Regions from separate parts of the Homo sapiens genome. Here all the other regions are reported to be linked to region 3. The links are microRNA targets in miRTarBase. Many come from high-throughput screens and were not tested one by one. Region 3 holds a microRNA gene; each other region holds the end of a gene's coding sequence.
What was found. The annotated mature microRNA hsa-miR-4258 reads CCCCGCCACCGCCUUGG and lies in region 3 at 954-970, opposite strand. An mRNA with a match to its seed (bases 2 to 7 or 8) in the 3' UTR can be bound and repressed. Matches are read on the target gene's strand: a 7mer-m8 pairs with bases 2 to 8, a 7mer-A1 pairs with bases 2 to 7 and ends in A, and an 8mer does both.

Region 1 (3,000 bases), not on the chromosome of region 3:
AGATTCTGGATTCCCAGTTGTTAGGCAGGGATCTATGGATTTAGTGAAGATGTAGACCAGTGGTGCCGGGAGAGGCTGCCATGCACAGCCTGTCAACGCTGCCCACCGGGGGCGGGGGGATGGGGGGTGCCCACAGACCATCTCCCTGGGACTGAAGCCCATGACAGAAGTAGATCATGCTGTCTCTTCTCTATGTGAGTAGACCCACGAGTCTCATGGCCCCTTCCAGTATCCATGGAACAGCAACAGACTAAATTACTTGCTTGTAAGTAGGGCAACATCAAACCCCAGACCCAGCAGGTACTTTTGTAAGAAAACATTTTTAAAATGACAGAATAAGAAAATGAATAAAGCTACCACAAAAGAAAGAAAGTGAATAAAGTCACCAATAAGAAAATGAATCAAGTTACGTTGTTCCACCCAGTGCCTCTGTGAGTCATCTTTCTTGGTGACCCCAACACCTACAAACCATGCAGTGGGTTGACATCCCGGGACTGCTGCTCCTGGTGGGAGGCAACTGACGTCACTTGCTTGACAACGAGACTGACCTTTTCTTCCACCACGCCTTCATCTCTCCTCTCCAAATACTGACTTTTTTTCCACTATATTTGTAAAAGTTATGTGATTGTATGACTACAGCTCTTCTGTGGTACCTACAGGTTGATACAAATCATTAAAAATCAAAACATCAACGTATCTAAGAACCAAATGGTGCATGTGACTCCCCGGAGAAGGATATATATGCCATGTTGCCACTTGAAGGAGAATCTTCCAGGCATCAAATCCCGTGGATTCTCTTATTTTCTTTCACATTCCCTCTGCTTTTCCTCACAGTCGGCTACCACGCTCTGAGGAGCCCGTGCCATCTCCATTTCCCCCATCCCTTTTTCACTTTGCCTCACACCAGTCAAATCCAAATATCCGAGAGTCAGACACTGGGAGACTGTCTGCTTCTTGGCAACTCCCAGGTGGTTATGATACGCTTCCCGGACCGCAACACTGACCTACGGAACTGAAATGATGAATTCATGTCAGAAGAAATAGGATTTGGGGAAGAATTCATTACCTGGACCATTTTCAGCAGCTGGAATAAAAAGTACTTAACAACAACAACAAAAATCACACACAAAGTCCAAAAAGTGTTTTGAAAAAGTGCTTTGAGAATTTACTGTACAGTTTTTTTAAACAATTTATTTATATGTTGGCTTCTACATGCTCTTACATTCGTGTAAAACATTTATACATATTCTTTACAATTTGTACATATATTAAATGGCTATAGCATAAACATTGTTCTATGGGATTTTATAGAAGAAAAATCAAGTGGGGAGAATTACTTATGAAACATTAACAAAAACCCGTGATATTGAAGAACAAGATGTTCTCATATTCATTTGATTTCATCTACTTATTTTTGGTGTCATTTTATTGATGCTGGCCCAGACTTTCCATTTCCCGTAATTATTAGGTCAGAAAAATGAAAGCAGCGGGAGGGAACGCGGTAAGGCACCTGTGGGAGACGGGAGCGCTCCTCCGCAGGGGTGAGACGGTGGCTGCCAGTGTTGAGTTCGAGCTGACGGTGTGCCAAGGTCCTGTTTTGCTTTATGCCGTTAAGTGAAGCGCTGGAAGTGCTGGTGCTCAGAAACACCCTGTGTGAAGTTTCGGATGTAGTCGGGAAGGGCGCTGGTCTGTTCTTTCTCTCCAACCTCAGAGCGCCGGGGACTCTGTACACTGCTGAGGCTGCAGCCCTTCTCAGTCCCTACACTTTTCCATCTAATGGGGAGCTAACCTGTGCTTTTTCTCTTTGCTGATGACACCAACTGGCCATGAACCCGCCACCCAAGCCAAGCAGTGTGCCGTGGCCACAGCAGCGCTTCTCATCACGGTGGATGAGGAGCCAAAGAATAAGAAAGGGCCAGAGACGCCGGGGTGCTGGGTGCCCTCCTTCTCCCAGGCCCTCCCGAACACAGGCCTCCGCACAGCCACTCACCCGTTGGACCAAAGCCACAAAATTCTCTACAAAGTCCCTCAATTCTTCTAATGTATTCTTCATGGCATAAAACATGCCTTAACCAAGATTAGGAAGGAAGTGCAAAGAGAGAAAGCACTGGTCCTCACATAAGAGCAGCACATCAGAAATGTCGCTGAGGACATGGGTGGCCAGGGGTATCTGCTCATCTGCCAGGCTGTGGGGTCCCCCTGGAGGGACATGGGATGGCCCACCTGCCACACACCACGATGGCACTAGCAGCCCCAGGGGCCCCCAGCGTCCTCCCTCTTGAAGTGTAAGCACTTGAGCTGTAACTGTGGCAGTGAAAGGCGTAACGACTTCCCTCAATGACAGGAGCCCCAGAGGACTGAAAGGAGTTATAAAAATATACAAACATAGATATTTTTTATTCTGGCATAGTTCATGTTTTTAAGAAAGTAATTAGTAATTAATTATCTGACACTGGGTAAGAACTGGAAGATTGTGGGAGACTTATAAATTATATAAGACTTATAATTTATAAGACATATAAATTATGACTCTATGTAAAATATCAGTGGGGAGAAACCCCTCATTTTCCATTGAAAATTCTGGTAACTTTTAAGTACTTTCCAAAAATAGAGACAATTTCCACTGGTTTAAATAATGGATGCGGAAATGAACAAAAGACCATCCCTAAATAACTGACGCATTTAGGGTGGCTAATAAAATAAATGCAGTTTTTTGCAACTCTTTCTTTTTGGTTTTGTTTCCTTTTTTTTCTGAATAATAGGGGAAAAAAAGTTTTGAATTGCATTGCCCCAAGTCAGGAGAAAGCACGCGGCATTCTCTTCAAGGCCCGTTCTGTCCTACATCACTGGAAAGCGGCTGAGGGCCTGCCTCAGCTTTTCTGCAATCTGACAAGAAAGCAAAACAAAACAACGTTGAGATATCACTCCCATTACGACCTCACAGTGTTCTTTATTCACAACTCCAACAAGTTAAACATGACACAAATTCCAATTCTTTAA
Region 2 (3,351 bases), not on the chromosome of region 3:
TCAGCTCCTCCACCAAGAAACTCAAGGAGAAGCTGTGGGTGCTGAGTAAGGCAGGCATGTCGGGCGCGCGTTCTCGCAACATCGTCTACTTCTCCCTTTCTGACGAGGAGGAGATGTGGCAGGCAGGGTGTCTGGGGGATGACAGCCCTATCACTCTCCTGTCCACTGTGGTCAAGTACAACAGCCAGTACCTGAACATGCGGACGCTGCAGGAGCATGCGGATCTGATGTATGGTGACATCGAGCTGCTCAAAGACCCCCAAAACCAGCCCTACTTTGCCCGGACGGACAGCGTCAAGCGGGAGAGTCGGAGCGGCTCCACCAGAGTGTGTCACGGGAAGATCTACCATGAGCATTCCCGGGGACACAAACAGTGCCCTTACTGCCTCCTCTACAAGTACATGTACATCCACCGGCCGCCCACCCAAATGGAGGCCAAGTCCCCCTTCTACCTGACTGCCAGGAAGGAGGCCACAGACATGGGCAGCGTGTGGTATGAGGAGCAGAGGATGGGGCTGCGCTCTCTTCGGGGAATTGTCCCAAACTTAGCCAAGAAGGTCAAGCTGGAAAACTGTGAGAACTTCACCTTTGTCTCGTTCACTCAGGTCTCCCGGAGGCTTGGCTCCCACAGCTGCTGCCAGTGAGCCCCCACTGGGGCCCGGCCACTGCCCTGTCACCTGCTCGGGCCAGCCAGGGTTGGAGCAGCTGGAGCTCCTTGGAGGCAGGGGCTGACCAGGTGTGACCTCCCGGTCTGGCGGCTCTCCCCTGGTGTGGCCTGCCCTCCCTTTGACTTGGGGTTTGCTTTTTAAAATGAAACTAGATGAGTCTAAATCATTCGGATGGTTTATCCAAATGTGCGTCAACTTCGTTAGCTTTTAGAATCTAACACAATGTATAATTGTTACATACAAGAGTGAGGAAATTCATTTTCTCTAGTGCCTTTCTAGCACAGGTTTTCTCAAAACAAACAAACAAAAAAGGAAACTGTTAAGTAGTCGTTTAAAAAAAAAATCCCAGTAGCGCAGTAGCTTTAGAACGTTAGGAAGACTGTACACTTTGTTGAATTACACTCACAATTAGAAACTAGAGAGAGGCAGACACGTTCCCTATTTCCAGGAGACAGATTGCGCTTGATGCGCCTTTTTTTTCTGTTGGTGGATAAGGTGGTTCTGGAGGGCAGGCAGCCTTGTGTCGGGGAGTATCCTCAAGCGACACTTGGTCATCTGACAAGGACTTGGGCTGCTCCCACGGCTCCCAGCAGCGGTAGGAACCCCATCTCGGCTGTCAATGGAGAGAATTTTATGATAAAAGATTCACGCACCAGAAGGGTGTCTGTGAGAACAAGGCTTCTAGTGAACTAGACAGTTTGTACCATGAGGGAATTTCTAGTAGTGAAGGAAAATGGCTTGGAAAAGCCAATCTGTGATCAAAATGTGAAAACCTCCTGAAGCAGAAGTGCCTATGTTTTATTTCTCAGCACCATGTGAGAGCTCCTTTGATTGGAACATTTTTTGAGGTTTCTGTCTGTTCTTCGTGTCATCCCATTATTCGGTCAGCATATACCACTGGATCTATAAAACAACTAAAGGTAATTTTTAGTCTTAGCCAAGAAAAGCTAACCAAACAAGCTGCAAAAAACACAGATCCCCAAACTTTCTTTATTAAAGAGATTTGGAATATTTTTGTCAATGTATGACTTTTCAGCCACAATTACATGTCATCATTTTAGGATGGCACCAATACTTGGGACACGATGATTTAGGCACCCCACCAGGTAAGCAAACTCAGCATTAAGGATGTAGTTATAAAATTAGCGCATAATGGTAGGTAATGCAGTTTGAAACCATTTCACTCAGGTAAAATGCAACCTGACCACATTATTTAAAAATCAGCAGAATTTTCTAATAACTACTCTGAGTGCAACAACAAGTGAAAAAGGAGCTCAAAGAGTGCTCATTAAGAGTAACAATAATTTCTAGGGACCTTGACTTTGCATTTGAGGAAAATCTTGTGTAACTTTATTCCATTATGCTCCTAATATGCTTTCTAATCCCAAATTAAAACTCTAATACAAATTCATTTTGTAGAAGTCTTAAAATCAGTCCTCTTTCTTTTTGAAAACATTATTTTAGTATTTATTTTAATTAATTGGTTTCTTAAAAAATCATACACTAGTCATTGACATATGTAATACTTCCTTTACCAGAGAAGACTCAACCAATGCTGCCTTAAGATTTAATGTTATTCCCTTTTTAGTCACTGTGCATTTATAAGTTTGTTTACTAGTTGACCTTTCCTGAATAGAGATTAGTTTCGGCATTTCTCCATCTGTATATAAATAACAGGTAATATTTAATCATCAGTGTATGACTTGATATCACATAACGTTCTGGTGTGGTTTCCTGTAGTGATCTTAGGGTTTTGATTTAAAAGAAATACACAAAACATTAGGTACAATTTCCTTTAGTTTGCTAAACACCCAAAGGATATTTTGTTTTGTTGGTTCTGCACTTAAACTGAAATACAACCTATGTGAACTATTGGGCAAAGCCTGCAGCCTAATTAATTAAAACCTCCATTTTTATTTGAATAGATTCAAGTAGAAATTGCCGTTAGGAATCACTGGGATCTTTTCGGATTTTGACCTTTTCAAAGGTAGCAATAACTACTCCAGAGGTTGTAATCTTTCTGTTGGTAGTGGCTTTTCATCAGCTAAATAATCATCTCTGCCTCAAATGTGTTGCCTGTCACCTAGTTGATGTTCCATAAAATCCCTGGGTTCTGAAGTGAATTATTATAATTAATAATCAGGAGGGCGAATCTTCAGTGGCATCTGATGGAATGAAAGAACTGTGTCTGAGCAGCCTAAAAGCTGTTTGTGACATGCCACCTTGGGAAACAAGAGTGAGGAAGAAAACACAGTCATCAAGTGCCAGCGTGTGCCACCCATTGTACTAGGTACTTTATTATGCATTTATGTATATGTGTGTGTGTCTGTGTATACACACAAACACATATACATAAGTGTTTACACACACACACGCACAATATGTGGTTAAGCCTGGTAAGCCTGCTAAAATGGCAAAGCGGCCTGGCGCGTGGCTCACGCCTATAATCCCAGCACTTTGGGAGGCCAAGGTGGGCAGATCACTTGAGGTCAGGAGTTCAAGATCAGGACCAACATGGTGAAACCCCATCTCTACTAAAAATACAAAAATTAGCCGGGCGTGGTGGCAGGTGCCTGTAATCCCAGCTACTTGAGAGTCTGAAGCAGGAGAATTGCTTGAACCTGGGAGGCGGAGGTTGCAGTGAGCCGAGACCATGCCACTGCACTCCAGCCTGGGCAACAAA
Region 3 (3,000 bases):
CTTCCAGGGGATGAAATGGTGATTCCTTCCCAGCTCCACAAATCTCTTATAAGCACATACAGTTTTAAGTTAGTTTAGTTCAGATGTAGAGGAAAACAGCTGAGGAAAAGAAAGTTAATTAAAGGAGGGTCTGGAGCCGTCTTGGCATAAAGATGATTATGTATTTGTCAATGCACATCGAGTTCTCTGGAAGACCCAAAGCCCTGAACTAGGCTGGGTGAAGAGACACAAGAAAAGCAAGTTTTCATTTTATGTTCTCCAACTGAGGAGACAAGATACAAACCAGGAAGTGGTCTTAATTATTACAATTAATACAGATTAGCATAATGCCAACATTTGTGGAATCCTGTGTCTTCCCTTATTCCCAATCTAGATTATGCACTTAAAATTTATCAAGCCCGAATGCCACATCCAGTGCCAGGATTCCATCATCACCATCCTTGGCAGATGGCTATCCAGTGTCTTCTAAACAATTTCAGTCAAGAGGTGCTTCCTCCCACATACCTTTTTCTTAGAGTCTCATCTCAGGCTCTGCCCTCTAGGAAGCTTTCCCCAACATTCCCTCTTCCGTTTTTCCTCTCAGTATTTTAAGTTTCATGTTCAAGGGTACATGTGCAGGTTTGTTATATAGGTAAAATCCTGACTCGGGGGTTCGGTGTACAGGTTATTTCATCACCCAGGTACTAAGCATAGTACCCGACAGTTTTTTTTTTTCCTGAACCTCTACCTCCTCCCACCCTCCTCCCTCAAGCAGGCCCCAATGTCTGTTGTTCCCCTCTTTCTGTCCCTGTGTTTTTATCTCCGACATATAAATGAAAACACGCGTAGTTTACTACTGGTTTCGTTTTCAATGGTGGTGAAAGAGACATCACGCTGAATTGGCCCTTAGGACACTCCCCCGCCCCCAAACCAAGCCCAGGGAAGAAGACCGACCGAAAGTAAGAGGTCAGCCTCCAAGGCGGTGGCGGGGCGGGGGGCGTTCTCGAAGCGTGGGATGGGGGAGCGTCCTGGAGTTAGCAAAAGTAGGGGACTGACTTTCTAGCCCCACCTCAACCCCCGCTCACAGCTAGGAAGCCGCAGCCTTCGGGTCGCCAGTTCCCTCTCCTTAGCAAGTCTTGTGTGCTCCCATCACACCCTGTAATGGCTCCTTGCATAGCGTGTGTCACCTTTCTGGTGTCTGTCGGTACCACCCACAGATTTTTAAATTTGTGAACAGCAGAGACCATGTGTTATCCTTGCACTTTAGCAGAACACCTGAAACCTGTTAAGTATTCCGTAACTGTTCCCTTTGATATTTAAAGGGCATCTATTAGACCCATATTAAGTATTTTCTCAATGCTCCTAGCCAGTTTTATTCCATTGCAGTCCCAAGCGATCCCCTTCCTTACACAAGCCAGACAACCACGCCCCTTGTCTTTTTCACGAGTTAATAAGCAATATTCAACTCTCTCAGCGCTACTCTCCTGTTAGGGACGCCAGGAAACTTCCAGCTCCGCTTTTGCTACGTTCTCCCACTGGATTCGACAAGATTACTGTGAAACAGTCTCTACAAGGCAAGTTAAGTTTGCCCGATAAAGTTCAGAGAATGATCCAGAAAGCCTCATGGGTGAGGGTGGTCAGTACCCTAACCACGCCCACCCCTCTCTCCTCTCTACTGAGAGGCGACTCCAAATTCGCAACCACTTTGTTTTACGAGCGCCTCCCACCTCCGCGCATGCGCCTTACGCCTTCCACAATATCACACCATTGCCCGTTCGCACCTCGTACGCATGCGCCAATTCTATCGCCTCAGTTCCTGTTACTAATTCCTTGTGCCCTCAGCGGCCAAAGCTCACGACCCTCGCTATTGCTCCCGCGCCAGCACTAACCGATACTCAAACTCCTCGTCGTCGTATTTGTCCGAATAGTAAATTTGTTTGTGCGACATGATCGCTCGGTTTGCTAGCCTTCAGCCCCGCGCCGCCAACCTCCAAGCAACTCCCAACAGCACGCGCTCCCACCCACTTTGGCCTCGCTTTCAAACACGCCGCCCGCACTTCCTATTGGTCCGTTTGGCTCGAGGCGGGACACCTCTACTTTCAAGCCTCCGATTGGCTTAGATTTACTTCTCTTCGGATCCTTATTGGAGGGCAGTTCTCACGCTTCTCAAGAACGAGCGTGGGTCAAAAGTAGGCGTCTTATTGGCCACCACTGCCTTTGTGCGCGATCTCGCGCTGCCATTGGCTAACTCGGGAAAGTGGGAAGCGTGAAGGAGGGACCCTGAGGTAGAGGGTCAGGGGTTAGTGAGGCCGGAAGTGAGTGTAATAAAGTTTCTCCAGGGAGGCAGGGCCCGGGGAGAAAGTTGGAGCGGTAACCTAAGCTGGCAGTGGCGTGATCCGGCACCAAATCGGCCCGCGGTGCGGTGCGGAGACTCCATGAGGCCCTGGTGAGTCTTGACTTTTTTCTCCTTAGGTGACTCACTCTTTCACCCCGGAACCCCTCTCCCGGGACCCCACTTCCGGTCTTCATTTATAAGTCCCGCCCCTGAGACCCCTCTCCCCGGAAGTCCCACCTCCCAACTTCAGGGGGCTCCCCCGAACCCCGACTTGATTTTTATTTTTTGTCTCCGACCCCACCCTGTCGCCCAGTTTTTCTGGAAGTCCCCACCCCCCGACACGTTCCAAGCCCTACTACGAGAAACCCTTCGTTACTCCTTCCATTCTCCGAAACTCCGCCTCCTAGCAACGATCCTCGGCTAACTCCTGTCAAAAGGCCTATCTCCCAAAAGGGCAAAACCCTGCTCTTCAAAGAACGATTCGAATTTGTTGAAGCTCCGCCCCTCCGAAGCCACGCCCCCTCCGTAATCCACGTCTGACTGTCCAGAAAGCCTCCCCGCCCAGAAGTCTGAAGTTCGCGTCCTTAGGGGACCACGCCCCCTTAGGAGCTTTATCTTTGTGGGACCTGGGTCATCAGCTGAAAAGCCTTGTCGTCAATCCCTGAAACTCCACCTGCTTATATTTT

Region 1: the mRNA of SNX9 is a reported target of hsa-miR-4258. Seed matches in the 3' UTR shown: 7mer-m8 at 1,832-1,838.
Region 2: the mRNA of KIAA1958 is a reported target of hsa-miR-4258. The part of its 3' UTR that is shown has no 7-base or 8-base seed match.

Annotation. Positions count from the first base shown.
Region 1 is chr6:157,942,677-157,945,676 of GRCh38, reverse strand. It overlaps SNX9 (sorting nexin 9), which reads right to left. Exons shown (of 18, transcript NM_016224.5): 18 at 600-2,886. The coding sequence ends at 2,839. Among named protein-coding and RNA genes, the nearest start is that of SYNJ2, 38 kb to the left of the region's middle.
Region 2 is chr9:112,659,426-112,662,776 of GRCh38, forward strand. KIAA1958 reads left to right here. Exons shown (of 4, transcript NM_133465.4): 4 at 1-3,351. The coding sequence ends at 644. Among named protein-coding and RNA genes, the nearest start is that of INIP, 57 kb to the right of the region's middle. RefSeq lists a silencer at 1,070-1,270.
Region 3 is chr1:154,973,673-154,976,672 of GRCh38, reverse strand. It overlaps MIR4258 (microRNA 4258), which reads right to left and starts at 980; the gene lies at 890-980. It overlaps CKS1B (CDC28 protein kinase regulatory subunit 1B), which reads right to left and starts at 1,992. Exons shown (of 3, transcript NM_001826.3): 1 at 1,869-1,992. The coding sequence starts at 1,927. It also overlaps a transcript of SHC1 not described here. RefSeq lists enhancers at 1,587-1,646, 1,747-1,896, 2,347-2,496 and a silencer at 2,167-2,256.